Homo sapiens: one gene and its partner. The protein of the gene in region 1 interacts with the protein of each later gene in a pairwise test. Each region holds a gene or a part of one and is shown on either strand. Other genes may lie near its edges. The genes, in order: SHC4 and MET.

What was found.
Region 2: the proteins of SHC4 (region 1) and MET interact in binary tests that used the Homo sapiens proteins (3 or more experiments, as listed by UniProt).

The regions. Positions count from the first base shown.
Region 1 is NC_000015.10:48,949,651-48,966,296, reverse strand, and holds the start of SHC4 (SHC-transforming protein 4), read left to right. Parts: upstream 1-2,377; 5' UTR 2,378-3,281; coding exon 3,282-3,866; intron 3,867-16,646. UniProt on the Homo sapiens protein: Activates both Ras-dependent and Ras-independent migratory pathways in melanomas. Contributes to the early phases of agrin-induced tyrosine phosphorylation of CHRNB1.
Region 2 is NC_000007.14:116,674,530-116,691,175, reverse strand, and holds part of MET (hepatocyte growth factor receptor isoform b preproprotein), read right to left. Parts: intron 3,236-16,646; exon of another isoform or gene 3,149-3,235; intron 1-3,148. UniProt on the Homo sapiens protein: Receptor tyrosine kinase that transduces signals from the extracellular matrix into the cytoplasm by binding to hepatocyte growth factor/HGF ligand. Regulates many physiological processes including proliferation, scattering, morphogenesis and survival.

The DNA of each region.
Region 1 (16,646 bases):
GCTCATCTTCCTGTCCAGTCATTTCTCAGAGCTTTAGGAAGCAGTAAGATGCCCTGTAGCCATCATAGGCCTGGAAACTAGACTTGAGCTCTCTGGTCCCCTGGGAGGCAGCAGAGTACAGTGGCTGCCAGCAGAGGCTTTGCAATCAGGCCCAGAGGGATCCCAAGATCATTGCTCAACAGCTGGAGCACCTTGAACAAGTCACTGCCCTTTCTCTCAGCCTCATTTTCATATCTGTAAGGCAGTGAGGAACATAATCCAAGCATCCACAATTTGTTATAATAATTGAACCAGAATGTAGGTAAACTGTCAGGTGTTCCACAAATAGTAGCTCTTATTAATATTATTTTAATCATGACTAATTGAAGAGGATGTTCTAATGCCCTGGAAAAAGCAAACCATCTGCTTTACCCACCCATCTACCTAGAATGAAAAGCAATTCAATCAACGAGCCTTCTCTTGGGCTGTTAGGACTGAGAGAGTGGTCCAGCTGGGCAGGCTCAGCCTAGAGGCTATTCCCCACTTCCAGTTGCAGATCTGGTCTCTTTCACCCTCGTAAAACGCTGTAGCAGAGCTACCCAGGACAGCCAAGGTCTCTAGGCTTTGGGAAGAGAAGGAGCCCACAATGGCCATGACTGCTTTCTTACCTTACTTAGTCCCACTTCGCAACCCCCAACCCTCCCAGGACTCGCACTTTCTGAGGCATGTAGGCTGGTCTGGGCTCCTGGAGTCTGGCCAGCATGGTGCCTACCTAGATGAGCTGGCTCCCCTGGACACCCCATCCTGCAGTCATGAGACCTCTGTAAGGATTCCTATCAGCCAGGCAGGCCCATGTCCTTTCCAGCCTTCTCCAGGCCCACCTGATTTAAAAAATTGTTTTCTTTGGACAATGTTGAGTTTCTTAGCTTCTCCCACTTTGTACTAATTTTTCTTTTTAGTTGCCTAGAATGATGTAAACTCTGCAGTGTGAGGGTTAAGAATATGAGCTTCAAGGGGAGGTAGCTCTGGTTCCAATGGCCATTTTTTCATACTGCCCACATGTACTTAGTGAGATGGGCACTGTATGGAGCATTGGGCCTCGTAAGCCCTCATAACAACCCCATTAGATGGCTGCTGCCAACATATGAGGACATTCAGGCACGGAGAGGTAAAGTAACTTTCTAAAGGGAGCATATAATGAGGTCATCATAGCATAACAGAAGCAACACAGGGACCCAGGGACCCAGGGGAAGGCAGGAAAAATGAGAGGAAGAAAGCAGATGAGGAATGAGGAGGAATGAGAGGTAAATATTCTTGCCCAGAGCCTGTCTCCTCAGCCCCAGGGATGTGGGGTCCAACTGATTTAGCTACTTCCCTCAGTTTTGCCAGGAGGAGATGTAGGGCAGGGAAAAGGAGGTCAACAAGGATTGAAGGGAAGATTTATGAAGATGCAGAAAGGCCTTTCCAGGGAAAGAAATGTCTGAACAGGCTTGGCAGACAGGATGTGATGGGTGCTTTATTTCCCTGGGGGACCAGGGAGCTTGGGAGGAGGATGCCGCTTTCACTGGTCACTCTCAACCATTTAATTCAGAACCTGTGTTTGGATCCCAAGGGAGCTCAGGCTCCCAAAGTCATGAATATACATAAGCCTAATCCAGCATTAGGGACAATAAGATAATGAAGGTGGCACCCTTAATTCCTTTGGTTGCCAGTTTGTCTTAATTTTTTAATTAATGAACAATTTCAGATGTCAAAGCCTTGAGACACGGAGTAATGCAATCTTTTCTGAGAGTTCTTTATCTCTTCCTATGTGTGATTTCCACCCCACCCCGACACCCCACACCCCCAGTGTTTCAGCAGTTTCCTCTTCTCCATTCCTGAAGAACCTGCATTTCCTTTTCCCAGCTCTGGTTTTGGCTTCCTGTGTGCTAAGCCTTTGCAGTTGTCATCATGTCTTCAGGATGCATTTGATAGGTACAGGAAGTCGCACCAGACGGAAGATGGAACCAACAATCAATAAAAAAAGAACTATGTTTCTAAGAAAAATGCATCATGGCTTCCCACAGGAGTTGTGAACCATATGTCCTAATATCCCTGTAACAATGGGTCTAATTTTTAGCTCTTCTGCTCTGCCCTCCCGGCCATCTCAACAAGAAAGAAAATAGATCTTTTAACCTGCTGCTCCCCGGCTAATGATCTGTAGTAAAGATTGCCTTTCCTTTTAACTCATTCATCAGATACCACAAAATAAAATACGTCCCTCCTCTCCCGCTAGCTTTATTTCTCTCGGCTACTAGTTTAGTATATTTATGGTGTATGAGTCATCAAGCTGCCTCCTGATTGGATAAAAACCAAGCACCTCTGAGACCGTCAGTCAATTACAGCTATTCTCAGCTTCATTCACAGATTTATTAGCTTGCACACACACAGAGAAATTCATTCGGCAAAGTTCATTCATAAAAATTTCAACACGCTGCGTATCATCCTGCACATCTCAGCTTTCGGCTGCAAATGGGCTTCTGAAAAAAGCTCCGAGAGGAATCCAGGAGGGAGGGAAGCTCTGAGCGAGGGTAGGCAGGCTGGGAGGGGATCTGAGGAACACGGACCCATCACAAGTCAGTGAAACAATGCGGAGCAGCGCCCGTCAGTAGTACTCCTGGCTGGTGGCCCAGAACGGGATGCAAGACAAGATCTTCCAAGAGAGGGCAGCCTTTGGAATCAACGAACCCAGGCAAAAGGGCCTTTGGTTCATAGATACATTTTTTTTTCCTTTTTAAATGAACAATCACTGGAACAAATAAAGGGTTAATAGGCCAGTCATTTGCCCCGCCCTGTGAGAGCCGAAGGGAGCAGGTTCGAAAGTTCCTGTGTGCAGAACAGAAGGCTGGGGTGAGGGTGGGAGTCGGGTGCTAAATATTTCTACTAGGCTCCTGCAAGGCTAGTGATGCAGCGGGCCCCCCGACCGGCGCTCGCCCGGGTTCTGCGCCTAAGAGTTGGCCGTGAGCGACCCGCGCCGCCGGGAGCCTGGGTCTAGGCTCTCCCGACAAGGATTCCAAGGCGAGAACACTGGTGCCTCTGCCTGGGCCAGGGAGAGACTGAAATCAGAGCAGGGGAGGCGTTTCCCCCATGGGCTGTCACCCTTAAGGGGCCGGGAGCCGAGGTGGGCGAGCTCGAGAGCAGAGTTGGAGAGGTGGCTGCTGTGAGTTGCATCGGGCGTTGAGGTATCTGATGTCTGCACCGTTTATCTACCAGACGACGAGGCGATTTATGCAACAGTATCCTGTTTCAGCACTGCCAAGGCTATGCGAGAACGCGGCCAGGACAGCCTGGCAGGACTCGTGCTGTATGTAGGACTCTTCGGGCACCCCGGGATGCTGCACAGGGCCAAGTACAGCCGCTTTCGGAACGAGTCGATCACGTCCTTGGACGAAGGTAGCTCCGGAGGCTCGGTCGGGAACAAGGGCTCGCCGCAGCCTCCCCACCCCGCCCTGGCACCTCACCTGCCGACTGAAGATGCCACCTTGCCGTCGCAGGAGAGCCCCACCCCACTGTGCACCTTGATCCCCCGCATGGCAAGCATGAAGCTGGCCAACCCGGCCACTTTGCTGAGTCTGAAAAACTTTTGCCTGGGTACCAAAGAGGTGCCTCGGCTGAAGCTCCAGGAAAGCCGGGACCCAGGTTCCAGCGGCCCCTCTTCCCCAGAAACCAGTTTAAGTAGGTCCGGGACTGCACCTCCACCGCAGCAGGACCTGGTGGGACACAGGGCAACCGCCCTAACCCCTGATTCGTGCCCGCTTCCTGGCCCTGGGGAGCCAACACTTAGGAGCAGGCAGGACAGGCACTTTCTACAGCACCTGTTGGGGATGGGCATGAACTACTGTGTGAGGGTAAGTCCATTTTCCTCTCTGCCCTCTAAGAACTTCCGTGGAAGGGGGCATCTTCTCTGCTTTCTGCAAGGGGTCTAATGTTACCTGCCTGGGTTCTGTGTTTGGACAGGACATGATTCAACTGGACCAAGGCGGAGGGGAGCTGGGTTTATATATGTCCCTACAACTATCTGACTTGTACTGGAGTCAGGCAGCCTTTGGTTCAAGGACATGAACCGGTGCTAACTTGTAGGACATGAACTTGTGGGTACTTGGCAGGTGTAGAGGCAAGTTCTGATAGAGGCAGCTGATGGCACCACTTTGTCCCCGCTGGACCTAGTATTCTGGCCAAAAAGAGTCAAGGACTTCAAATCTGATCAGTGATTGAGACCTGGTAGGTTATACTGGCCATTGTATTTTGGATGAATACAGTAAAGATTTCTGTGCTGTAGAAACACATGGTGTGTAAGGGGCTTGAATTATTCTTTAAAAATTTATTTCAGCATTTAACAAACACTTCTCAAAACACGTCCGAGTCTCTAACCTTGTGCCAGGAGCTAGTCTTAGCTCTCCGGTGCACATTTATTGCCTTTACTGCCTACGCTGCAGCAAGTAGGCCTTGTCCATGAGCTATGGGCAAAATCAAGGTCCTTACTGGCCTTGTATCTGTCCTTGCTCAGTCAAGATGTGGGCAAATGAAGATTTGGCCTGTGCCCTTTTGCAGCTCAGATTTCAATGAGATCAATGAATACATGCGAAATACTAAGATAATAATACTTAGCAATAGATAGCTAATATGAGAATGCTGAGGGAATTCAGAAAAAAGGAAAGATTATGTGATCTGGGATTCATTCACATGGGGAACCCTCAGGAGAAGATGAATCTTGGAAGAAATGTCAGATCTGGGTTGGCAGAAAGGAGGGGATTCCTGGTAGGCCAAGAATAGGAGCAAAGTCACTGTGGTGGCTGCAGGGGAGCATCACACAGGCTGGGCCTTATGGAGGAGGAAGGGGAATGCTGGAGAATAGTGGGTGACTGAGGGAGGGGGTGGCTTGTAGTACTCAAACAAGTATGAGTTGAATAAAGACAAATAGAGATCACGGGTAGCTTGGGAGACCGAAGTTGACTGAAGCTCTTAAATGCCAAATGAGGAGATTGTAAATACTGTGATTGATAAATGAGAATCCTCCTAGGTTTGTAGGGCATGACTTGCTGAAAGTAATTTTTAAAAGACCAGTTGGTTGATTTATTTGACATGGATTGAAGCAGGGAAAAATTAGAGACTTGGAGGACAGTAAGAAAGATACTCTGAGAGTTTAGGTATGAGGCAATGAGAACACTGATTAAGGTGGAGAGGAGAGAAAGGAGGTGAATGGTAAGGCATTCTGTGACAGAAGAATGAGAGAAGCCTCAACAACCCTGGGAGATTAAGCAGATCATTTCAAATCATAATATAACTAATAGAGTAGTGAACATTTATGGAGCAGTGGGTAGATTGATTATTTTGTTACCATTGTTGTTTATTGGGGTTGTGATTGATTATTGATGGAGGGTTGTAAAGGGTGAAAAAAAAACTTTCAAATTGAAGTCTCAGAATGACATCAGTGATGCCAATGACTGAAGCAGAGTAAATTAGGAAATGGACTCATTTTAAGTTTGTTTTTGACATATTAAATTTAATGTAATTATTTGTAAATAATGCTAATATGTAGGTAGACAGTCATATAAAACTAGCACTCAGGCGAGATGTCTGATCTGAAGGTATAGAGAGCTAGCCCAAGAACTGTATTACAGACAATTAGGATCTCAGTATTACAAACAGACAATTAGGATCTCAGGGAAGTTCAAATAATAAACACTGGAAGGGTTACAGAGAGAGCAGGCTTGGGCAGTCCTGGCAAATGGGTAACTAAAACCTCTAAAGCAGATAAATGTATGGGACATGCAGCTCTCGCCCTCACCCACAGTGACATGGCACATAATGGAAATATTTTCATGTTTCTACTCAAAGTTCATGGGCATATTCTCATTTATCAAGATTAGGTGTGTGCCAGGCCCTCATGGGAAAACGAGTGAGTCTCCAAACCTGGGCTCTCTGCACTTGCCTTACCATCACCTACACATCCTCTAGCCTCTGCCTCAGCTTTCCTTTCCTCTTGTACCTCCTGCAACCTCCCCATACCCACACACCTGTACAATTTTAAATGTGAAAAGAGTTGCTGTGTGATCTCCAGTTTCCCTAGGGAGTGCCTCCTCTGGCGTTTTAGATTTTTAATGGGGGCACCATCTGTCTTTTCATGGCAATAATCACTGACTCCAGAAAAAGTGCTGACCCCACGACCCAAATGAACCTCACAAGATTGCCGATATCCGTGATGTCCGATACAAGCTAATGACATCTCTTATGAAGTCAAAATACGTGAAAGAACTTACTTATTAAGTTTTATAGAATCCTAACTTTGAAAGACGGAAGACTCAGAAGTTATCAAGGTCAATTCCTTAATGGTGAAACCAAACCCCAGGTTTTTCAAAGGCCACACAGATGAGTTAAAGCAGAGTGAGATCTAGAGCCCAAATCTCCTGTGTGCCATTCTTATCTGTCTTCACCACAGGTTTCCATCCTGGTTGTTGTTCTGTTCCTCAGAATTCTTTTGAGATGTGAACCAATTTTGAAAAATGAAATGCTAAGCTATTAATTTACAGTAAAAATATCATACCAAATGAACCAAAGTTGTGAGCTCTGTATTCCCATCTGTAGGAAAAAGCACATAAAAAATTTTAAATCAAACCTTGCTTGGTAATAATGGATTCATAGGAGAGAACTGAGAGAAAGATGATCTTAATGGCTAGTTGACACAGGGCTGGTGGATTTAGGGGCAAAGTTTACAGGAAAAAAGCCACTTCATATTCTACCTTCTTATCCATATCATGTGACTGCTCCTCTCCCTGCCCCAACTTATTTGCTAATCCATTCATCCATTTATTTAACAAATATGTATTATGAATCAATTATGCAGCAGGAACTGTTCTAGGCACTGGGCATCCATGAACAAAATGAATCAGTTCTAAGCATCAGTAAACAAAAGAGACCAGGTCTGAATCATTGTGAAATATTTTAGTGAGCGGAGATAGGTTCAATTGAATAAATGAAAAAATATACTATTTCAGATGGCATTAAGTGCTATGGAGAGCAATAAAGTGGGGTAAGTGAAAAAGGCAGTAGCTTGGGTGGGAATGGAAGGCATATTACTCTTGGGTAAAAAGTGGGATTGTTATAGCTACTCTTTACTTTGTTTTCTTGCATATTTTCTCTTTATGATAGGGACTATATTTTTCATCTGCGCTAAGCTAGAGTTGACTTTGGGTTAAATATTCTTTTTAAAAAATGGTTCTTCATTTGGTCTTATGATGTAGAATAAATTATATAGCTGAAAACACTTTATGAATCCTGACCACCTGTTTTGAGTAACTTTAATTGAAGCTCAGACTTTGGACCACCTGAAGGTCTCTCAGGGAAGGGGGCCTAGCAAACCATTCTTTGAAAGATATTGAGCCAGAAATAGGACAGTGAGATCCCAGTCTGGGCAAAGTAGTGAGGTGGGCAAAGCCCATTAAATGGTGTCAAATGTGACTTCATTCTCCCCATAAGACTGAGTCTCCTTTCTTTAGAGGCCTTTCCAAGTCCATTCATCCATCAGCAGACATTCATTTAAAGGTCTCCCAGGTGCCCAACATAGTGGGGAATGTGGAAAATCTACAACGTGACAGTGTTCTCCTCTTTAAAATGAGAGAATTGGCTTGAAAGCCCCCTCGCAGCACCAGTATTTAATGAATGTAGGGTTCCTTTCTCACACGGGAGGTGTTGAAAATGTTAGTTTCCTTTCCAATTCTCAACTTGGCTCAAAGACTTAATAAAGCAGAGGCAAAGAAACCAACCTTGACGAGCTTTGGCAGGTAACTGCAGTGGCCCTCACCACAACCCCCTGAGGAAGGCCGTGTTCTCCAGGTGAGGACACTGAGAGCCCAGGTGTCTGTGATCCACAGGATACTTCACAACTAGTAAGTAGCAGACTGAGGATTCCTAACCAGGTGTGTCTCACTCCAATGTTCCTCCACTTCCCAACCTCTCACTTGCCTCCAAGCAAGACAGGCAGCCTCTGAAGTATGGGAATGGAGTAGCGTAGATGAGAGGCCACACTGTGCAGGATAGCCTCATCATAGGACCAGCCCATGGAACTTGCCTTGTGATATGCATTTGCATGATTTCAGTCTCTTCACTTCAGCCCAGCCCAGCCAACTGTTTCCCAGATCGCATTAGTTTCCTAGGGCTTCTGTAACAAGTCCCACAAACTGCGTGGCTTACTACTATAGAAATCGATTCTCTCACAGTTCTTGAGGCTGGACGTCTGAAATCAAGATATCAGCCAAGTCACGCTGTCTCTAAAAGCTCTAGGGGAGGAATCTTAGAGCTCTTCCTTGTCTCTTCTAGCTTTTGGCAGTTGCCTGCAATTCTTGGTGCTCCTTGGCTTGTAGATGCATCACTCCAATCTCTGCCTCTGTCTTCACATGCATTCTCTCTGTGTGTCCATGGCCAAATTTCCCTCTTTTTTATAAGAACATCAGTCATTGGATTAGGGCTCACTCTCATCTAATATAATCTCATCTTTATTTGATGACATTTGCAAAGACCCTATTTCCAAAGAAGGTCACACTCACAGGTTCTGAGGGTTAAGACTTGGGCATATCTTTTTTGGTGGACATAATTCAACCCAAAACAGTCCCCAAGAGCATTTATTGCAATGTGTTTGCTCACATGGGCCTTCTTGGGTATCAAGCTCATCAGCTTTGTGTGCAAATAGAAATTTGTGTTGAAAGATTTTCTTTACTTCCTTTATAAATCCCACAGTATACTCTTACCATCCGTCTTCTCCTGTCTAAGGTATCTTATCACTGACCCAGTAAACTAGTATTGTCAATCATCTGTTGTCTAGACTAGATGTAGTCCACAGTACCACAATGTTACATCTACCTCAAGTAGCTTTTCCATAGGAGAATACAGGTCTAGGAGTTTGGAGACGTGCATTGAAGTAACGGCTCTGACACTAAGCTGTGTGATCTTGGGTGGGTCACTTCACCTCTGTGGGCCTCATTTTCTCATATTTAAAAGAAGTTTCAGCCAGGCACAGTGGCTCATGCCTGTAACCCCAGCACTTAGGGAGGCTGAGGCACGCATATCACTTGAGGTCAGGAGTTCGAGACCAGCCAGGCCAACATGGTGAAACCTCATCTCTACTAGAAATACACAAATTAGCCGGGCATGTTTGCATGCACCTGTACTCCCAGCTACTTGGGAGGCTGAGGTGGGAGGATTGCTTGAACCTGGGAAGTGGAGATTGTAGTGAGCTGAGATCATGCCACTACACTGCAGCCTGGGCGACAGAGCAAGACTCTGTCTCAAAAAAAAAAAAAAAAAAAAAGAAAGAAAGAAAGAAAGAAAGAAAAAGAAAAAAAGAAGAAGAAGTTTGAACAAAATGCTGCTTAAAATCCTGAGACTCCAGGTCTTCTTTCCTACCTGTTTGAAACCCCTTATTATTAGGATCTCTTTTGGTTAGAAAGAGTTACCTTGAGGAAATAATGTTTATCCACTTTATGTTAGCAGAGAAGAGAAAGAATGTCCTTCAGGGATGCATTCACTTCTATTTTAGCACCCTCTTACTAACACTGAGCTGGCTTCACCAGTAAGGCAGAAAGGAGGGTGTTATACTGGCATGGGTGGAGGCAGTAAGTTTTAGAGAGATGGAGGGTGGTAGAACAGCATCCAAGAGTAGAATTCCAGGGAGGGGTGAAGGGTGGGCTAGTTCGGGGGCAGGCCAGGGTTGGAAGAGGTGAGCGATAGTGGATGGGATTGTGGGAACATGGCATTCCTCATGTGTCTGGCCAGCTAGGTCTGACTGGACTTGGTGTCCAACAGGAGGACTGCAGAAGTGACAGAAATTAAGCCATCTCTATTTTCTCTGGACAAAAGAGCCAAGAGAAAAAGGCCTTGCCACACACATAGCCTGGTAACTCTAACCTTGAAAGAGGGAGATTTGTGACTCCAGGAGACTCCTGGAGAGACAGTCCCATGGTTTACACAATGAAGCCAGACCTGGGTCGCTCAGGTACCCACAGCAAAGAAACATGGCTTTCTGCCTTTGTAAATTTCCTTCTTTTCTAAGTTATTGGTGGTTGAGAGGGAGGTAGTATGGATGGGAGGAAATAATTCCAGCTAAAACTGATGACTTGGCATTGAGGGTATTATATTTTCCTTCCTATTTCTTTCTTGGAGTAGACGTGGAAGTAGATTCTGCTGGAACTTAGAGAAAGCCTGGCAGGTTTGACCCGTTCCCCTGTTCTTCTCTCTAGACCTTCACATATCCCTTGATTGGTCCAGTCCTTTCATGCCCCTGGACACTAGAGCCTTAACTGCAAGAGTCTTAGAGATCAGTGAGTCCACACACTTCATTTTGCAGTTGAGGAAACTAAGGCTCAGACATGTGAAGTGACTTGCCCCCAACCACACATCTACCAGTGGTGGAGCCCAGACAAGAGCTCCCAGTTCTGTGTACAGCACTCTATTTTCTACCTCCACCTTGCTTCATCTTCCCCCACTTCCTGAAATAAATATGCTACACCAAATGCCTCTACATGATTAAAATGCTGCGTGTGCTTTTTAGAAAGATAATTACAAAAACTTCTTTCTAATGGGAAAATTGTCTTAAAATAGCAGTGAGAAGAAAAGAGGGAGCATAGAAGGGTGGCAAGGAGACCAAAGAGCACTGGCTTGGCCAGTTTCAACCTTTTGATTAAGGAGGTCCCTGCGGATGGCAGTGTGTCCATGTTGGGCCAGGACTTGTTACCACATGCATGGACTGGCTCCCATTTCATTCATTGCTGCAACCCTAATGACCTTAGGGTCATTTCCCCAATATGGTTTCCTCTCATTTCCATGTTCATATTACTCTGAAGCCAATACGGTGTTATCATATGGAGGGACCGAACCAAGCCTGGACCCCAATATGACAGTTCCATCACCAGGAGAGTGATCTAAATGATGCACACAGGCTGCCCCACACCCCGCTCCTACCCAGCTTCACTCACTTACATCATCTGTCTGCACCTGAAGGTGGCTAGGTTTGCACACCCACCCGTGGTATTGGAATGTGAAGACATTTCTAGTCCCTTTGTCTTTCATTTTCCCCTTCAGAATATGTGGGAAAGAAGCTTAGAATGTCCTCTTCCTGGGTAAACATACTGGGATGTCTTTCTTTTACGCAAAGGGACAGAGTACTGGGGGCTGCAGGAAACCCAAGAGAGGGATCCTGCCTTCTCAACTCATGGAGCTTTTTCTCATTGTAACAATGTTGCAAAGAGTTTTTAAGGGTGGTAGAACTCTAGGATTAGTACAGGCTGTTCCCATTTCATGAAGAGATTGCGGGTGAAGAGTTAATTTGTACAGCAGTTCTTTGAGACTGAAATTTCTCAGAGAAATAAAACTAAAACTTGATAAGCCTTCTCATACAGTTAGGGACAGGATAAAATAACAAACTGTATGTACAAGGCTTAGCACAGAGCCTGTCTCACAGTAGGTCCCAAGTGGAGGGAAGAGAATGGATTTCAATAGCCTAGGGGGTGCCTCTGGGCCGAAAACTCAGGATAGACTAAACTTGGTTTTGGCATTTCCCCACATTCCTTTGGCATACTTTCTCCCGGCCAGCAGCGCCACCCTGGCAGAACTTTCTTCCCTAAGTCTTGCCTTGTGCTGCTCACCAGGGAGGGCCTGCCTGCCTTCTTCTCTAAAGCTGCCTAATGTTTATCCGCTAGTCCCCTGCTCCTCCAGTGCAGCAAAGCGAAAAGCATCTGCATTTTGGAAAGATGTTTATTTACTTCATTGACTCTTCATTGTAGTGTTTCCCAAAGTTTGCTGAGGACCACCTGTATCAGTTAAAAATGCTTGTTAAAATGCAGATTCCCAGTCTCTAGCTTGGACTTACTGGACCAGAATGTCTGAGGCTGGGGCCCAGAAACCTGCATTTTTGGCAAACTGCTTATGTGATTCTGCGGCAGAGAAGATTTGGGAACCTCTGCTGAGTCCAGTCAGAGCAATGGTTCTCAACGGGGGATTATTTTGCCACTCAAGGGACATTTGGTAATGTCTGGAGACATTTTTAATTGTCTTAGCTGGGAGGGGAGGTGAATGCTACTGGCCTTTAGTGGTTGGAGGGCAGGTTGCAGCTAAACAGCCTGCAAGGCCCAGGGCAGCTCCCACAACACAGAATTGTGAGGTCCAACACATCAGAAGTGCTGAGGCTGAGAAACCTTGAGCCAGTGGGATGAAGTGTATGAACCCGGGATGTAGATTAGGAGGCAATATTAAATGGAAAAATAAACAACTGCTCAGTGATTCCTGTAAATCGAATCTAAGCCACTTCTACATCTTCTCATTTTCTTCTTTCCCCTCTTTTAAATCTACAGATTCTCTAAAAATTATAGTTCACACCACTTTCCACCCAAACAATATTCCTGTGGCTTCCACATCATGATCTCAAGTCATGGGATGAGGGTGAGCCACATGAGCCATATGTTGCTATGAGCTACTCGTACATCAAGGATGTCCACATTAGGACAGATTCTACCTTAACCCAGGAGCACTCGGGCTAAATGACATTGACAGGCTAGCTTACTTTCTTTTTCTGTGGAGGGAAATGGAAATATGAGATTTTATTATAATTTATTTGGAAATATAGGAACATAACATCACATTCTCATTAACATAATAGCTATGATTTGTTGAGCTCTGTGTATGTTGCAGGAAGCTTGCATCAATTACCTCACAATGACCCTGTGGAGTGGGTAGATGGAGAGGAAACTGACACCAAGAGAGGCCCATTGTCTGGCCTTGATGCTTATAAGTAGCAAGCATCAGTATTGAAATGGGAGTCCAACATGTCAACTCCACTACTGTAGTTTGCTTTACACAGTGTTTGTTTTTTTTTAACTTTTATTTTAAGTTCAGGGGTACATGTTACATAGGTAAACTTGTGTCATGGGGGGTTGTTGTACAGATTATTTCATCACTCAGGTATTAAGCCTGGTACCCATTAGTTATTTTTCCTAATCCTCTCCCTCCTCTCATCCTCCACCCTCTGATAGGCCCCAATGTGTGTTGTTCCCCTCTATATGTCCATGCGTTCTCATCATTTAGTTCCCACTTTTAAGTGAGAACATGCAGTATTTGGTTTTCTGTTCATGCATTAGTTTGCTAAGGATAATGGCCTCCAGCTCCATCCATGTCCCTGCAAAGGACATGATCTCATTCGTTTTTATGGCTGCATAGTATTCCATGGTATATATGTACCACATTTTCTTTATCCAGTCTATCACTGATCTTCATTTAGGTTGATTCCATGTCTTTGCTATTGTGAATAGTGCTGCAGTGAACATACATGTGCATGTGTCTTTATAATAGAACGATTTATATTCCTTTGGGTATATACCCAGTAATGGGATTGCTGGGTCAAATGGTATTTCTGTCTTTAGATCTTTGAAGAATTACCACACTATCTTCCACAATGGTTGAACTATTTGCACTCCCACCAACAGTGTATGAGCATTCCCTTTTCTCCACAATCTCACCAGCATCTGTTATTTTTTGACATTTTAATAACCATTCTGACTGGTGTGAGATGGTATGTGGTTTTGATTTGCATTGTTCTAATGATCAGTGATGTTGAGCCTTTTTCATGTGATAGTTGGCCACATGGATGTCTTCTTTCGAGAAGTGTCTGTTCATGTCCTTTGCCCATTTTTCAATGGGTTTTTTTTCTTGTAAATTTGTTTAAGTTCCTTATAGATGGTGAGTACTAGACCTTTGTTGGGTGCATAGTTTGCAAAACTTTTCTCCCATTCTGTAGGTTGTCTGTTTACTCTGTTGATAGTTTCTTTTGCTGTGCAGATAGCTTTGTATCTTAATCATGGTATCCTACTCTTACTAGTAACTTCATTTTCACAGGGAAATGCATTAAGATTTTTAACAACTAATTTACAAGTAAATTTTAAGAGCAGAGCCTGTCTTGGGGTTGAAAACTTCCTCTAGTTAGAGGGGTTGACATTCCAGTTGAAAAACCCATGTGCTTTAGGGACAACCCCAGAAATTGGATTTTTACCCTTAATATCATCAGCAAATAATTTATTATATATGAATCATTTATTGGGAAGTGGTAAAATGCATAATTCAAACTTAATCTTTTTTAACCTAATGCCAATCCTGGCTCCTTGAAAGGCCATTGTGCCTCCCACATCCCTCTCAGCTTGGTTCCTTTAACCCTGGACTCAGAACTCATCTGATAGGTTAGACTACAAAGTTCTGTTTCATGGTGAGTTAAGCTCTCCAAGGTCACAGGGCTCATCGGCAGCAGCGCAAAGACTAAATTTCACATCTCCTTACTCCCAGGCCAGTGGTCTTTCCACTACATTATGTGAATGAGACATAATTCTTGCATGAGGAGGTGTGGTAGGAAAGTAAAGCAAAGATGTCCACACACATTACTGTAATAAATGTTAGGTTATAATAAATGAAACCAAAGTGATACCAATGAAGGATTATGGGAGTTCAGAGAAGAAAGGGCACACCTTCCATTTGAGATAATTAGAGAAAGTTTCTTGGAGGAAGAGGTATCTTACCTGAGTTTTAAGAAATAGGTAGAGTTTCCATAGGCTGAGATGGAGAGAGAACATCCTAGGCAAAGTGAAGGCATGGAGGTGGGAAAGTGGAGGATGTATTTGGGGAGCAGTAAGTGATTTGACTTGGTTAAACAGTGCAAGAGGCATATGTAGGAAATCAGAAGGAAAATAAGATGGACTGATACAACAAGGTTGTATAGTACCTGAAAAGCTGGGTTTTCACCAGAAAGCCACTGGATTTTTTTTTAAATGGGGGAATGACAAATGCAGAGATATGCTTTAGGAAGATTACATGGGCTGCAATGCTCAGAGAGGATGCAAGAGGAGGGAGCCTGGAGAAAGGCAACCAGAAGAAACAGAGTGGTAACAAAGGCAGTGGCACTGGGAAGAGAGGGGAAAGATGGGACACCTAAGGGAGGAAGAAGCCACCAGCTTCTCACCCCTTTGGAAATGGGTCACAGGCAGGAAAGTGAGGGGGTAGGAAGGATGTGGCTGGGGATGAGTCCCATTGTACACCTGCTGTGTTCAAGGTGACCCCGAAAGCATCCAGGTGGAAATCTCCAGCAAAAAATAGAATAGTTAGGACTGGGGAGAAATTATTTTTGTTGTTATTGTCATCAAGGCCCGTGGAATGGACAAGGCTGCCACAAGGAGAGGGTAGAGCAGGATTTAGGATTTAGGTGTTCTATGGAAAGGGGAGGAAGGGAATGGGCAGTATGAGGAGCAGGATGAAGAGAGGACAGGTCACCTAGGGAGAGGGTGGAGAGAGTTTCCAGGAGAGAGAGGTTGGTCAAAACCATGTCAAAATCCGTGGAGTGTTCAAGGAAGATGAGAACTGAGAAAGAACCGCAGGGCTTGGTCTTTTGTCTTCCTACTCCTACCCTCCTCCAGGATATTAACGCCAACCATCGCGACCCAAGCACACCAGTGGATATCCCACACCTCCACTGTCACCTCCGCCCACTCAGTGAATGGTGCCTCCCTGTTGTCCAAGTCAGAAGTCTGGGGGCATTCTAGACCACTCACTCTGTCTTGCTGCACGCAGCCTCCTCTTATCACAAACTGTCAATTCCACCTTTATGACATTTCTCACACACTCCCATTTCCCTCCATCCCCACTGCAGTTTCTAAGGTGGGCTCTAGTATGCACCATTTTAAAACTTATTAGATCATCTTCTCATGGAGCTAATATTCTGTGAAACACAGGTTGGGAAACTCTGCTACTATAGCTTTCATTTGAAACTAGGAGATCAATAATCATAATACAAGGTAGAAAATGATATATGCCTATAGACACAGTCATATACATCAGTGTGATAAAGTAGATATGTCTTCTATCTGGTGGAGATGTCTTCTAGCTGAGTAATCAAGGAAAGCTTCCTAAGGAGATGGCCTCTGAGATGGTCCCTAATGATCGGTTAGAAGTTTAACCATAGGGAATATATATATATGTAATTTTATATATTATCTAAAATATATATGAAATTTAATAATATATAAATTTTATATATAATAATATAAATACAATTATATAATATAAAATTATAAATATAATTATATAATATAAAATAATATATACAATTATATAATATAAAATAAACACATATTATTATATAATTATGTATTTACTATATTATAAAAATATATTTTATATGTTTATTGTATGTTAATAAATATATTTATTGTATTATATTTATATTATTTATTAATAATAAATATTTTAATAATATTAATATATTATTTTATATATTATTTCATATTTCATATGTTAAAATTATATATAATATATAATCTGCATATTAATATATTATATAAATTATATGTATAATTTATAACTTGTATACATACATTATAAAATTATTAATATACTAATTATAATATATAAATATTACATAATTTATATATATATTAATTTGTAATTATATATAATTATAAAATTATATTACTTTACATATATATAATTTTTTTAAGGTATTGTAGATGAGGGAATATAGATAAGGAATTATAGGTTATCCGCAAGGGAGGGCACCGATTTTAGTTGGGCCAGAGTAAAAGCTGCTGGAAAAGAATGGTGGGTAA
Region 2 (16,646 bases), on another chromosome or scaffold:
CTGGAAAATATTTCAACATTGCTTTTAAGTGCAAGAAAGGGATTTATGATGATGGAATATGGCTGAGGCCCCATATTAAGGAAATTACAGTCATAAAAATAGCCATGGCTAAATCTCCAGGAAGACTTGCCAGAGTGAAATCTTAGGGAAAAATCTTAGCCCTGTCCACATTTATATTATGTTTATTAACTTTAAAAGTAGGTCTATTAAAATAAAGTTAAGATTCCAATAGAAGATTCCTAATGACATTTAAAATACTGTATTTATAAACACTCACTGTTTATGAAGAATCATATTACATTATATCATATGATATTAATCAAGTATTTGGGAGCACCCATTGCATGCCACGTACTTGACTAGATACTAAGAGTTTCTTCCCTCAAAGAGTGTACAGTCCGTGGATTTGAAGATAACAGGATAAACTCCGAAATCTAAATGTGCAACCTAAATGGAAAAGTGGATAGATCCACTGGGCTGAAAGCAAATTTGTAAACATGCTTAGTTGAATGCTTGATTCTTATGCCTAAAGACTTAACAGTTAGTGTTATGATCATCAAAAGCACCTACATTTACTTTAAAAAGATAAAACAATAGGCCATGTCAAAAATCCCTTCTATCGTAGCCAGACACTACCTTGACAATGGTTTCCAACAGTGAATCGAAGGGACAGGAGGAATCTTCAGAATTTTTCAGTGCATTCAACTGCTCTTTGGTATAATCACATTTAAACAGCCCAAAACATTCTGGAGACAAGGTGGAGTGTAGTGGAGAGAGTGTGGGCTTTAGTGTCAGACAGACTTAGATGGGATGTGAATATGGCCTTTTTCACTGACATGCCTTCTGATTTGAGTGTCAGTTTCTTATATTCAAAACGTGGGGATAATGATATACATCTCATGGGTTGGCCATGAGAGTTGGAGATAAACTGTGAGAAACACTGTCCTTCAGTTATGCAGCACACCCTAGCATTTAATAATAGCTACTATGCTTATTATCCTAACTTGTGTTTTGGCCAGTTTTTGCCTGCCCTCATAAAAAATGAGGAAGTTGGCACAGTCCCTTGGGTGAGACCACTCCAAATACCTGGTGACTGTTTCATCACTTTAGTCCTCTCATCTAAAGTTTAAATAGTGTTATTTCTTCTTTTCCCACCCTTTAGCCATCTTGTGGTTTTCCTCTAACCTCGGTTCAAGTTCTTGAAGCCCTTCGAAAATTGCCCCCCAAGACAGAAGCCACAGTAACAGCCTCCCATACTAGAGAAGTAAAAACAAATAGGAACCAGTATTTTAACTCTTTAAAAAAGAGTTAGCTCAGGCCAGGCACTGTGACTCACGCCAGCAATCCCAGCACTTCAGGAGGCTGAGGCCAGACGATTGCTTGAGTTCAGGAGTTTGAGACCAGCCTGGGCAAACCCCATCTCTACAAAAAATAAAAAAATTAGCCAGGCATGGTGGCATGTGCCTATAGTCCCAGCTACTGTGGAAGCTGAGGTGGGAGAATCACTTGAGCTAGGGAGGTTGAGGCTGCAGTGAACCGTGATCACACCATTGCACTCCAGCCTGGATGACAGAGCCAGACTCTGTCTCAAAAAAAAAAAAAAAAAAAAAAAAAAAGAGTAAGCCCATATCCCAACTGAGATTTAGCAAGTAAAGATATAGGATGCTGAGTTAAATTTGAATTTCAGATAAACAGTGGATAATTTGTTTAGTATAAGCATGTCCCAGGAATGTATTTTATATGACAATCCTAGTCGTCAGCAAATGGGGAAAAATAAGGGAACAATAATCTTTTTTACCCACAAAACTCACATTAAAAAGATTTGGGCCAAATCTATTTATCTGTTGGGGTAGAATGTTTTTAAAGCTTTCTGTGGTATATATGTATTGCAAAACTGCATAGCATTTTTTCATTTGGGTTTGCTTCTGTGCATCTAAAACATGTTTTAAAAGTTCCTGGCAGGTGGTTTTAAGTGTCATATGAAGGTATAACTATATGAAAGGGAGTAAAGAAACTTTTTCCCCTCTATAGTTGTACTGTATGTGGCAGCCTGTCATTTACATGAAATTTCTGAAACAGAAAAGGTATTCCCAGATTGATTTACATGCTTTATTTATAATAAATGAGCTTATTAAAAAATTCAAATACAGGTGGCTATAGGAGATAAACAAGTTAAGCTTTGTACAGGAATGATTTGCATGTGTTATAATTAATGTTTCCAGGGGGTGCTCTAAACGGTTTCTTGATTATTACACAAATGTTGTTTCTTTGACAGATAGTGCTTTTATTCAGATTCTTATCTGTTTTTGCATCCCCTCTTAGTCCTATAATCATTTAAAAAGTTGAAAATGGCTGCCTGTTAGCATAAGAAAAAGCCAATTGTGCATTTTCTAGTTGTAACATATGATTGAGACTATTATCCAACTCTGATATGGCAAGAGTAAAGATAAAAAGAATAGAATGCCATTATATCCTCAAGATTATCCTTTATAAATTCATATTCTGTCAGCAAACATCTTTGTCCTTTTAAGAATGGTTGAAAGTACTCAACTTCTTGGAAAGAAGAATAAATGGACATTTGTTTTTACCATTGTACATAATGTAAAAAATATTGTTCAGAAAATACATTGAACTCTCAGAGCCCTGATTGACAGATGGGCTTTTGTCCCATTAATAAATTGTAGGTCAGACAAAAATGTTTCATTGCCCTTGAAAGTGTGAAGGTTGAACTTCCCCAATGTAAAGAAAGTGCTAAAATGCATGAAAACTTATACAAGTATTTGTTTTCGTATTTTTCAGCCAAATGGATGGACATAATTTTGTGATTCAGACTGTGTAGCAGTGTTACCAGTTTTTGTTCAATTAATCCAGGAAGACTGAATAACATAAATCCGCAAATCACATTTGAGAAACATCTTTCCAAGTCTATATATTAAAAAAAAAAAGAGGCAATCAACCTTTGCCAGTTGCATTCAAATACTGGGTTTGGAAAGGATAAACCGACTGAATAGTCAGAATGTGAACCACTGAAGGGAGACAAGTTGGAGAGGAAGCTGGTACATTACTCACGAATGAATCAGACATCCCCTCCCTCCGTGTTTGAAAATGTCCTCGGCATAAAGCATGGTACAATTCCAAACGAGGAACTATGCTCAGGATTGGATTTATATGACTGATCAGTTTCCTCTGCTGTTATCGAAAGCAGATATCAAATGGCTGTGGAGGAATGCAGGTGGTGAGTGAACCCCATTCTTTTCACAGTGGCTGTCACACAAAGAAAGAGAAATCAGCACCCAGGGACAGAGAGACAAAGGGGAGAGGTGTGAGGGTGCCAAAGGCCAAGCCCCCTCTAGTCTCAAAATGCAGAGCGTTTGAATGAGCTGGGCGTTCCTTGTAGTGCTATTTTCTCTTAGGTCTGAATTTATTTTGCTTATTTGCTCACACCTGAGAAATTTTCTTGGAAATCAATGTTTGCAAGTAGACTCTGACACTGGTATGAACTAAGGTCTCTTTTTCACGATCAAAATTGTCAGTATATGACATTTTCTTATTTAGGCAAAGTAGACAAGAATTGTTAGAAATCATGAGAATACTGTGAATGTGAAGGAATAGCCAAACCTGGCCACATTTTGTACAGATGTGGATTCCTTGGGTGAACATAATGCAATCCTAACAGTGTTGGAAGAAGAATTAAAAGTATATGAATAGCATTATGTTGAGATCAATATGTCACCAGAAAATAAAGAACCAAACAAAACTGTTTACAAAAATCTTAAACACTTTTAAAAGAATAGAGAATGCTGAGCAAATAGATTCTCATAAAACTAGGATAGTACAGAAAAATAAGTACAGAATCCAATTTCTGAAACTCAGTAAACACTCTGGATCCTTGAAAAATCAATAAAGCAAAAGGTTAGGACAACCTGAAAACAACTGTGCTTAGGATTGCATTTACGTAACTCATCAATTCAAGGAAAACAATTCAGGGCAGGTTGTGTGTATATAGGCGGTATGTGTATTTATGGGAGAGGAAAGAAATAGAAGAGAGAAGAGAGGGCAAGAAATTAAAACAAACAACTTTTCCAACCATACAGGTGTTGCCCCTTGACTGGGAATCTCCACCTTCCACCTGCAACACGCCCAGGCTGTGCTGTAAAGGTGTGCGCATGTCAGTGGAGCAGCACGGGGGAGAAGAGCTAACTATGCAGACAGAAAGCGGGGCCAAGGAGTATTTCAGAGGGGATACTACTTGAGCTGTGTCTTGCAGGATAAGTTGGAGCTGCTCAGGTGCAGCTGAGGTAGGGGACAGACACTTTGGGTGGAGTGGACTCACACACGGGCACCTGGGGAGAAGATGCAGGGTTGTCCAGGAAGCTGCAATTGGCATAGAGGCCAGGTGGGCTGGGTTGACAGTGGAAAAAGGTATAAGATTAGGCTGTGGCCACATTAAAGAAAGTCTGATATGTTTTGTTGAAGGATCTCCAGAGAATCCCGAAATCCATCTCTCCAATATCACTTTTGTCTATGCAACAGCTATTTAAGACCAAATTTGACAAGTATTTACTGGGGTCCTACTATGCATCAGATGCTTGGGATACATCAGTAAACAAAACCCAACACCCCTGCTCTTGTGGAACTTACTTTTTAGCTGGGGACAACAATTAATACCCATAACAAGCTGATGATGTAGTGTTTCAGAAGTTGATGTGTGTTACAGGGAAAAACAAAAAGTAGGGCTGGGGCATCAGAACTGCCTGGAGGAGAGGTATGGGGATAGGTTTGTAGCTCGGAAATTGGGAAGGTGGCTTTTGTGGACCCAGATGTCTGAGATGGGAAAAGAGATTTCTGGGCAGAGGCAAGAAGGAAGAACTAAATGTGCCTGGTGTGTCTGAAGCACAGCAAGGGGGCCAGTAAGCCTGGACTTTGTTGACCGGGAGCTGAGATCAAAAGGACAAAGAAGCAGAGCATGTAAGGCCTTGTAGGCCCCTGGGAGATTCAGGTTTTTATTGGAGTGAAATGGGGAGTCATTGCAGGGTGTTGAACAAGGGGGGATTATGTTGGAATGTATTCACCTCGATCATATGGGAGAGAAGACTGCTAGTGGCTGGGGGGCAGTTCAGGGCAAAGGTGGAGTGGTGAGGCCAGCTGGGAGGCTCCAGTGGTGTTCCAGGAGGGGGACCCTGGTGGCCTGGGCCAGGAAGGAAGGGGAGAGTGGGGAGATGTGGCCGAATTCTGGTTCTATTTTGAAGACAGAGCTATTTTGTCACATGCCTCAGATCGAACTCCATCCGGATTTACTGATGGAGTCAGATCTGAGGCATGTGAGAAAAAAAGGAGAATATGCCAAGGATTTTGACTTTTTTAACAGAGAGAATGGCTTTGCCAGTTACCGACATGCAGACTCTGGTTGGTGAAGCATGTTTGTAGGATATGAGGAGACCAGGAATGTAGTTTTGCCCACAATGGAGGTTTTTTTATTTTTATTTTTTTGACATGGAGTCTTGCTCTGTTGCCCAGGCTGGAGTGCAGTGATGTGGTGTTGGCTAACTGCAACCTCCGCCTCCCAAGTTCAAGCGATTCTCCTGCCTCAGCCTCCTGAGTAGTTGGGATTACAGGCACACATCACCACACCTGGCTAAATTTTGTATTTTTAGTAGAGACGGGGTTTCACCATGTTGGCCAGGCTGGTCTTGAACTCCTGACCACCACCCGCCTCACTATCCACCCGCCTCAGCCTCCCAAAGTGCTGGGATTACAGGCATGAGCCACTGCACTCAGCCTGACATACATTTTTTAGGCATCTAAGTGGAGATGCCGGGCATGCAGTTGGATGTTTGAGTCCCGGGGTTAAGGAGAAAGGTCTGGGCTAGAGATTTAAATTAAGAAGTTGTCAGCATGTAGACATCATGAAAAGCCATGAGAGTGGATGGGATCTCCGAGGAGAGGGACTGTAGAGAATGAAGAGAGGAGGACTGAGTGATGGCGCCACCAAAGCTAATAGGTCAGGAGACAAAGACAGATGGGACAAGAGACCAAGAAGGAGCAGTTGGATATCCTTCTGTTATCTCCATCTACTCCCACAAAACCTGGTCTCCCTCTCTGTATCCTACCTCAGTGCTGAACATGTCCCATATTTCTAGGACATCATCTTTGACACCCACCTACAAATATTTTAAACATGTCCATCTCCTTATTGGCTTCCATGCCCATGGTCAGGGCAGTGTCACTTCATACCTGGATTACTACAACAGCTTCCTCGCTGGTCTTCCCTCTCCATTCTCACCCTGATCATCTGCCCCCTAGCATACCAGAGATATCTTTCTAAACTGACAATTTGACTATGTCACTTCTTTGCTGAAAAAAAATGTCAACCCCTTGGCAGAGCTTACAAACCACATACCATTTTTTTCTGCCCCACTCTCCAGTCTTGCCTCTTGCCATCACACCATTAGAAATCTAGGCTCTGGCCACTCTGCCCTCTTCCAGTTCTTGAAGCAAGCCATGTGCTCAGCCACTCTGGGTTTCAGCACATGTGGATCCCTCTTTATGGATATTCTTGCCCTCAACTTCACATGGATAAGTTGTCCTCTCTCTTCAAGCCTCATCTTAGGGAACAGTTCTGGGAAGCCTTCTCTGATGCATCTCTTACCTTCTAGTAAGGAATTAGGAACTCTCCTATGTGCTCAAACATCAAACCTGTCTTCCCCTTATCTAGCCTTTACCACACTATATAGTAACTTATTTATCTGTGTCTCCCATCAGAGTGTAAGCTCCACTTTTAGCCCTTAGCATAGTGTCATTACATGGCACTTAGTAAGCATTTATTGAATGAATGGACAACAGAATCAATCAATATACAAAAGAATGTTCCTGAACAAAGTTTCTAGCATTATGGAAAGAAAGGAAGGACTAGATTATACACATATTAAAGTGAGAAAAATTATGTGGGAATTATTCAATATGGATTTTGATTGTAGAGGAGACTGAAAAGCCAAGAATGGCTAAAAAATTGTCTATCTGGGTATCATAAACCAAGGTAAGGAAAATAGGGAGAGGAGACTTTGAGGGTAAAAGTAATTAGTTGAGTTAATAACCCTGATGTAGCTTCTGGTCATCTAAGTGGTGGAGTCTGTAAGGTAGCTGACAACATGAAAGTGGTGGTCTAGAGAAAAGAGGAAGTGAGAGAGAGCGGTTTGTGAACCACTCGTCCATCGGTGTATTGGAAGTCACTGAAGTGAGATCACTTGTGAATGTGTTTTGTAAGTAGAAAGGAGGAATTCAGATGGAGCCTTACAGAAGACTAGAATCTAACCTTTATGTTTTAAAGGGTAAAAAGAACAATTGTAGGCAAAGAAAATGTGGAGAGATAAGCTAAGGAGAACTTTCGAGAAGGGAGAAATAAAATGTATGGTGTCAAATTCTACAGACGGGTCAAAAGGGATAAAAACCAGTGTCCATCAGATCTGGCCATGAGGAGGGCACTGGTGATTAGAATGAGGACACTTTCTTGGGCATGTGGTACAGACTGCTTGAGTTGAATGACTTAAGAATGAATGGGAATGAAGAAAGTAGAGAAACTGAGTTAGACATTTATTTTCAAGAATTCATTATTTAAAGGCTAAAATGAAAACAGGAGTGACTACTTAAGGAAATTGTGTATTCAAGATCCTATCAGGATGCCTGATGTGTGTGTTTTATTTCTTTCTAGAAGAATCAGTAAGTTGAGTAAGAGGTGAATGAAAAATAGAGAAGCCATGGAATACTATGCAGACATAAAAAAGAATGAGATTCTGTCTTTTGCAGAAACATGGATGGAATTGGAGGCTGTTATCCTTAGCAAACTAACAAAGGAACAGAAAACCAAATACTGCATGTTCTCACTTATAAGTGGGAGCTAAACGATGAGAACCTATGAACACAAAGAAAGGAACAACAGACATTGGGGTCTACTTGAGGGGGCAGAGGAGGGAGAGGAGCAGAAAAGATAACTATTGGGTACTAGGCTTAATACCTGGGTGATGAAATAAACCCTGTGGCACGAGTTTACCTATGTAACAAATCTGCGCATGTACCACTGAGCCTAAAATATAATTTTTTTAAAAAAGAAAAATGGTGAGGGAGATTTTAAACACGGGAAGAGTTGTAAGGTGGGTAGGATAGAGGGAGGAGGTGCTCACAGGTGTGGGGAACAACAGGGTCAAGACTTAGGTAGAAAAGACTGTTTCATCCTTTGAGACAGAAAGAGGTAATAATGGGTGACATGGAAACAACTGGGCTTGTGTTTACTCTCTAAACTATAAGGAAAGATCTTATACTGAGAATAAGGAGAGCCCAAAAGATGCAAGAGCTTAAGAAATGGTGAGAGTTTGGAATCACTGCAGTGGGCATGGCGAAAAATTGGACTGGAGACATGCAAACAGACTTGCTGGTTAAGAGAATCAGGTGCTATGAATTGGGCAAAATGGGAAAGAACCAAAACAAGAATGAAAGTTCACTCCAGGTCATCCTTATCCTAATGCACAATGTCCATTCTCATTGAACGTCTTCACTGTCAGTAGGCAGGTTTGGGCATTAAATGGTTACATAATTATGAACTCAGTGGTAAATTCCTTGTAATGTTTATATAATTCATCAGGTCTATGGGCCCTTATTAACAGAAAATGCCAGCATTTAATTATTTTTATTTCAAAACCGGTTTTATTGAATTCTGCAAGGAATAACTTCAGGGAAAAGAAAACACATTGAAACAGATACTCTCCTCTCTTTTCAATAAAGCCAACAGTCTAAAGATGTTAAAGAAATAAATCACATATAATGATCATCTAACTCTGAAAATTAAAACCCATTTAGGGATTATGAAGGAACCTTGATCCTGGATACCAGTCTAAGTTATTCGTCTAATATCTTTAATAATGTTTGGAAAGTAATTAATCAACTTATGACATAGATTCAAGGGCTGTCACCTTTCATTGTCATTAATGAAACTGTCTGGGATTTTATCTGCACTTTTCTGGTGATTTAAAGAACAATTTTTTTTTGGTAAGTTCTTTGAAGACCAAAAGAATGTTTAAAATCACTGGGCCTTGACGTACAGATTTCAATGAACAATAATCCAAGTATGTGTTAGTGAGACCGAAATAAAATTTAGAAATATCTTAATTTTGACAAGACAGAAAGGGAATTTTTGAAAAGTCCAAAATGCATATTCATTTATGTTAGGAGGAAGTTTTTTTTTTTGTCAACAATCTCTGCTTTGGTTACTTCTTTACATAATACAAATTACAAATATCATACTATTTGATACTCATTAAAAACAACAATAGCTAAGGTAATATTTTAAGCCCAAAGGTTTGCCTAGGTCCTAAGTGATCATATTGGCTTGCTGTCTTTGTATTAACCAGATGGTTGTGAGACCACAGTCTCACTTTGGACAGTGTAGCCATTGGCTGGAGCCATATGAATTCTGCCTGAAGTGAGGGCAGAATCAGATGAAAGTGGCTCACCTAAGACCCTCAGAGGAGCCAAAAGACAAGTAGTGAAGGCAGGCCTTGATAGAAGCTTTCCTTGAATCTTTATATCACTGTCTAAATTCGTATTTAGAATAGAAAAATACAATTCCTACATCCATGCTAGTATGAACTTTGTATAGTCAAGGACCAAAGAAATGGTTTCAAGGTAGTATCCTCAAGGAAAGCTAATATATATCCCCAGAGACAATATCCCAGTGGAAAAGGATTACAGATAACAGGTTTTAGGGCCATAACTTTTGGTCCCAACAGGAATTTATAGATTATAATGAGCTAGATATGCTAGAATATTTCAGTCATGAAAATGGTGTAAAACCTTTATAAATTTGCCTGAGTTTTCTTTTTATATTTTGATTTCCTCAGAGAAAATGGAATTTCATTTAGAGTGCCTGGGAGTAGATAACAGAGTGCTTAGAACATGCCTCTGACACTCAGAATAAAAGCTTTCTCTGCTTCTGTGACATATTCCTGCTATTCTTCCTGGTAACTGAGGGGAGGACAGACTAAGAGGCCCAATTTAGGACTGGATAGATGATAGTCTATCTTTCTCCAGAATCAAACCACATGTAACACAAGTTGGCAGAAATTTAGACTTTGTAAAGCAATGTCTAAATTTTCCCACCATTTCCCAAGGTGGGAAAATGGTAAAGGTACCATTTTCCCATGAGCTTTACTTTATTCCATACCCTCCCTCCCCCACTTTTTCTGAGACAGGGTCTCTCTTTGTCACCCATGCTGGAGTGCAGTGGTATGATCTCGGCTCACTACAGCCTTGGCCTCCCAGGCTCAGGTGATCCTCCCACCTCAGCCTCCTGAGTAGCTGGGACTGCAAGTGTGCGCCACCATGTCCAGCTACTTTTTGTAATTTTTTTAAGAGGGGGGTTTTGCTATGTTGCCCAGGCTGGTCTCAAACTCCTGAGCTCAAGCCATCCACCCACCTTGGCCTCCTAAAGTGCTGGGATTACAAGCGTGAGCCACTGTGCCTGGCCTATACACCATTTTGACCTGCCTCTTTCCTACTTAGAATTCAGGCAGCCTGATTCTTAATGGGACACCCTCTTTATGACTTAGGGTGCACTCAAGCCCATGACCCTTCAGCATATCCCGCCCACCTTTCCCCTTCCTTTGCTCATTGATCCAATATCCCATCTAAACCTCCAGGCCTTCTCCTTTATTATCTATTTTCTATATATGGCATAAGAATTGTCATAAAAAATCTTTCTTAAATTGAACTACATTTTCCCAACTGTTCAAATACTCAGGCATTCATTCATTTTTCAAGTTGTGAGACCTTTACATTGGAATTTTAAAAGTCATGTAAATACGAATGTGTACAAAAACACTGATATATGATTTATTACTGATGGTTTGGTTCCACCAATGAAATAAAAATTAGGCATGTCTAAACAAAGCTGTATAAATAAGTCAGTGCTGATACAGTGCCATCTACAATTAAATGTCAAAACAAGCTGTAATGATAATGTATTTAGTAAATCTTCAGGTTAACCTAAGAGAATCTCTATTTTAAGACCCTATTAACACAATTTTCCTTTTACCCCCCCGCCCCCTCAAGATATAAGAAATTGCCAATTCCATCACCCCAAATGTGATACTAAAACAGCATGCTTTTCACCAGGAAAGGTTTTCTGAGGATAAAAATGTGATGAGCCATTAGAAATTCACAATATGGTATCAAGAAAGATCTCAATGCCTATATTTTAGCATGATAGTTTATTTCTTTAAGAGAGAAGGAGCTGCTGTCTCCAAAGCAGCCATTCTTTAATCATGTCATTTGAAATGCACTTAAAGCTATGTCAAATTCATATAGGAAGTCTGGTTACCAGAAAATACACATTCACAAACAGGAAATCTAACTACAGCAAGAAGGTGTTTTCCCCCGACACAATAGAGTTCAAAGATGTGTCATCCATGTAATTTGGAGCAATACCCAACACCACTCTTATTGCTGAGTATTCCTCTCTCCCCTCTCCTATATTATGACAACTCGTGATTATAGCATTACGTTTTCTAAGCCTGTTTGGACTTGCTGCTCTTGCTTATACATACAAGCGACCTGCCCTTTTTCTGTGCATAGCTTTCAATCAGTAAGCATGTCAAGGTGGGAGGAAGGATGACAGGAATAGTAAAAGGGGGAAAATCAATTTTCAGAAAGCATATGGCAACAACTGAATATTTAATCAAATTAGTCTAGAAATTCCTTCCTATTTTCAGCACTCTTTGCAAGGCAGTTGCTTCATGGTGCAAAATGAATTTCAATAAATGTCATATATTTAGTTAGATGGCTTATTTTAAAAATTTGTCGAACAAGGTCACTGACTTAGAATAGATCTTATTCCAAGGTATGACAGATGGATATCAATATTGAATAGAAGAACTGACATTAGCTAGAAGTTTCTGGGCAGAAGAAAGAGTCATTCAACACTCTACAAAATACTTACTGAGTACCTACTATGTGCCAGAATAAAATGATGAATATTTGGGCTTTGTATTTATATTACAAAACAGAGAGGAAATGTGTCAAAATAATTTCCTTGGGGTTAGTAAGGATTACAACTGAGTATTACTGGTAAACAAGGACTTTAAAAAGTGCTTAAAATTTTCACATTGCATCATTCAAACATCCATACTGTCATGGTTGCAAGATTTTAGACCTAATCAGATTTTTGAGGATGCTGTTTATTGACGCTTAGCAAAAACCAACTTCCTATTTTTTTCTGGAACAAAAAGGCCTTACACAATTTTAGAGATCTCTTGGACATCAAAGAGCTTAGAGGGACATACAGTTTGTGAGTAATGATTTAAGATTTAGTGAATCAAAGACACATGGATTAAATTTCCCTTAAAAGACCCCTAGGTTTAAAATTTAATAGCTAAAATGCTGGTCTAGATACACTCTGGTCCCAATGCTGGTCCCAAGCAAAGCCAAAACCTATTTTTAAAGCTAGGTTGAATTGTCTTATGGACCCAAACCTTGGCTGGGTTTTCCTTTCCCACATGATTAGGCCTCAAAGGAGGCAACCTATCTCTAATAAATTTACCACTTCTCTTTTTCTCTGACTTGCAAAGACCATATTATTTCAAAGGTCTCAGCTTTGAATGTCTTTCTTTACATTTTTAATAAAATATTAAAAATTAGAAATCTTCCACGGTCTTATCAAACAGTTATTCCCCAAGTCATTCTTTTTTAAAAAAAAACATACATTTTCAAATTGGACCTGAGAGTCTAGGTGCTGCCTCAGAATTCCAACTATTAAGGAGTAGGAGACCATTTCAAAACAGGAATAGACCACTGATCTTAATATGTATACTGTATGTGCACTGTTTCATGATATATTATTATATTTGCATTTAAAATAGTAGGAAGAAATACAGTACATAATCTCCCTTTCTAACACAGTGGCCTTCTGGAGGGCTGCTAGCTTGGGCATTTCACTGAGATTTTAGGATTAAAGGAAACAAATTAGTGCACAACCTGTGAGCTTTTATTCCTTTGGAAAAATAGATTTTAACACTGATCTGATTGCTTTTAAAGGGCACTGGAAACCAGGAGGGCAGTGCATGTTTTGAATTTCAATGGCAGGGTAATAACAACGGGTGAAGTTCAGTCATTTCCAGAGACAGAGACAGAGAGAGAGAGAGACAGAGAGAGAGAGAGAGAAAGACAATATTCCAAAGGGGGAGTTTATCCTGAATCAGAGAACTTGGAAATGAAATTGATGCATAAAGCCATGATGGATTCAGGTTTCAGAAAACTACTACTTCAGTTTAAGAATGAAATAACTAGATTACCCTTTAGTTTAGAAACGTACATAGTTTGATGTAAAGTATGTGGGCTGATGAGTTTAGAAAAATAACCACGTGCCAATAGGAACTGACATAAAATATTGGTTTTAAAAAATTTGTTTAGTTAATTTTCTGAGAATTTTAGAAAATAAAATATTTTGTAGAAGCAGTCCTGGGGCTCTCGGGCCATGCATGCTGCTGCAATTGGGACCATCAGGAGCCCAATCTGGCTTGCAGACTTTCTGCCACTGTAAGCTGTATGGTGTTTTAAAGACACTGAGTCAACATTTTAAAATTGGGAGAGTCCTAGCTTCTCTTGAAAATCTGAAAGATACTACCACATGGGCCCATGCCATACACTGAGCCTCACAACAGCTCTAATCACGCCAAGCAGTGACTGCCCCTCTGCTTTTCCTAAGCAGTTTGTCAATCCCTAGTGAAATGGTTAGTTTTCCTCATTTAAGTTACCTGTTTGCAAATCTTGATACAGGATATAAATAGGGGAATAAGGGAAAAGGAAGAAAAGAGGAAGAAAATCCAATGCAGTGACTTAATACTGGAAAGGAAAAGGAAGGAGAGCGAGGGGGAAAGAAAGAAGTGCATAGCAGACAGAAGCTGCACACCATCAGCAACTGCCTCTTGCTGTCTTTAGATTTATACTATGGAAGGGATCAGTGAAAAAAGCCATGGGTATCCTTCTCAACAAATCCCACTGTGACAGGCTCACAGTGTGGAAAATAAGAAGGAAAATTGTCTGAATGGAGCAATATCTCTGATAGAGGATGGAGTATGGGATGGGACCAGGCGGATGCAAAACAAAACAAAACAAAACAAAACAAAAAAACAAAAAAAAAAACAAAACAACACTCTGGGTCTTCTTCTTCCATGTCTCATAAACCAAGAGATGTGGGCCACTCCTGTATCTTCATCTTTAACATGGTAGCTAATGATGGCAGGCACTGTCCAGGTATTTCCCTACAAAAACAGGGGCACTATTCAGGTATCTCCCTCCAAAATCAGGGAGTCTATGGACAGTTGTGCAAGCTGTGAACTGCACAATTTCAGGAAAAACAAGATGAGAATAGCACTCCTGAGAAGTGCTCCTCATATGCGCCTGGCTCACTTCCTTATCTCCTTCAGATTCTAGCCCAAAGCCCACCTTTGAAGACAAGCCTTCCCTGACCTCACTATTGAGTTTTTCAATCACCATCCCACTCTCTCTTATCCTTGACAGTCACTATTCTCTTTTCCATTTTATTCTACCTTGAAGCTATTATCATCACCTGACATACAACACATTTCAGTTATGTATTTCTTTATTGTTTGCCAACTCAATAGAACAGAGTGTCATGAGGTTAGAGGTTTTCATCTGTTTTATACTCTGTGGAAATGCCAGATTTTAGAACTATGCCTCGTAGGTTGTCAAAAAATTGTCCTGAATGAATGACTAAATCCTCATTCACATTCTTGGAGTACAGGAACCTGGCTTTCACGATAACTTGTGATTCTCTAAGCACATTTCATAATTGCTATCCTTAATTATATTAGGAGAGATACATTTTCAAATTCTATTGCCCATTATATAATCGCCTGTGGGCCCTATAGCTACATAATTTATTATAGAAATTAAAATCAATGGGAGTAACCTACATAAACATACTTGCACACATTTATGCAATCACAGAGAGAAATATGTGTACCTGGGTATGTGATTACAAAGTTAACTTTTTTATTTCACTGAGCTCATACCTCCTGCTACAAATGCCACACGTGATTTTTTCTCTCAATTAAGTTTTACAGCTTATAAAAGCACTTTTTTCATTTTGTCCCATGAAAAGCAAAGTAGTCAGATTTTACTGGATGTTTTTATTGAAACAAATCCCAAGCGGAATATACTAACCTGTTTAACACAGCTGAAAAGATATCTGAGAATGGGCTTTCTGATAGAAGGATAGATTACAAAATTATTCACGGCTCTTAATCTGATAACAGGAGCAGAATGCCCCACACATATGAATGAAACCTTTTCTCGGTATGTCTCACTACAAAGAAAAGAAAAAAAGAAAAGAAAAGAAATTAAAAAAAAAAAAGAGAGAGAGAACTGGAGAAAGAGAAGGTGACAAAAACTCCAGGGACTAGATATGTTATATTCATCATTTACCACTATCTTAAGCATCCCTAATGATGCCTCCATGGAAAATGTTTCCAATAGTTGATGGCTGAGGAAAGGTGGTATGGTGCTATTGAAATAGCATGGAGCTAGTCTCAAGCTCAGTTTCCTTGTCTATAACATAAGAATGTTAAGATGTTATCAGACTTGCCTATCTTGTAAGGTCGTTTTGGTATCAGAAAGGTGATGTATGCAGAAACAGCTTGAAAATGTTAAGGTTTTTAAGTTCCAAACTTTGATTTTTAAAAAAAAATTCTATTATTTCATAGCAAATAGGATGATTTTGAAAGCGTTTCTCATGTGATGTCCTCTTAATAATTATGAATTTGTGTTCATTTAATATGTGATATTTGTCTGTGTATCTAGATCATAAACTTCTCAAGGGCAGATTCCATTTCTTTCTTTTAAAGAAAATGCTGTAGTACCTAGCACATATGATACTCTACCTATAGGTCCTAGCTATTTTTGGTCAGGCAAATGTGGATCTAGCAGCAACTCAGTGTCAGTTGAGAACACATCATCAAAGTGATTCTGAACTAACATTAGTCAGTGTATCTATCATTTATTACTGAGAAGTGACTATTTATTTTGCACTGAGCAAAACCCATGAAGAAACTCTGCCCTAAGGGCTTGGTGTCAAAAACACTAGTTTCAGCATACACCAGCCAGGAAAAGAAGGCTCACTTCCGGACACTTGAGTTTCTACATACATTTTCTCCCCTTAAGAGGGCACAATGAGGAAATTGAGTATCCTATGAATAAACACAGCAGACCAAGGAAATCTTAGGGATTTAGACCACGGAAAAGAAAGCGTAGATGGCTCTGGCGAGAATCACTAAGCCTAATGCCTAAAGAAGAAACGAGCAAACTGGGCTGGAGAAATGGGGGCACGGAAGGCCTTGAAAGCAGCTCTGACCAAACCAAGGGAAAGGGTTGAGGAGGAAGAGGACAGAGAAATGGGAGGTAATCTGAATGTGTGAGGAACTGTGCTCACCATGGGGGTGTTGCCATGTCTTTGGTGCAGCCACTTGGAGAAAATAAGCCAGTTAGAGGATGTTAGCTCCTCTGAGTTATTCACGTTGTTTTGAGATGACCACATTTGAGAAAAAGTTAATTTGAGACTATTATGTAGATCTGCAGAAGGA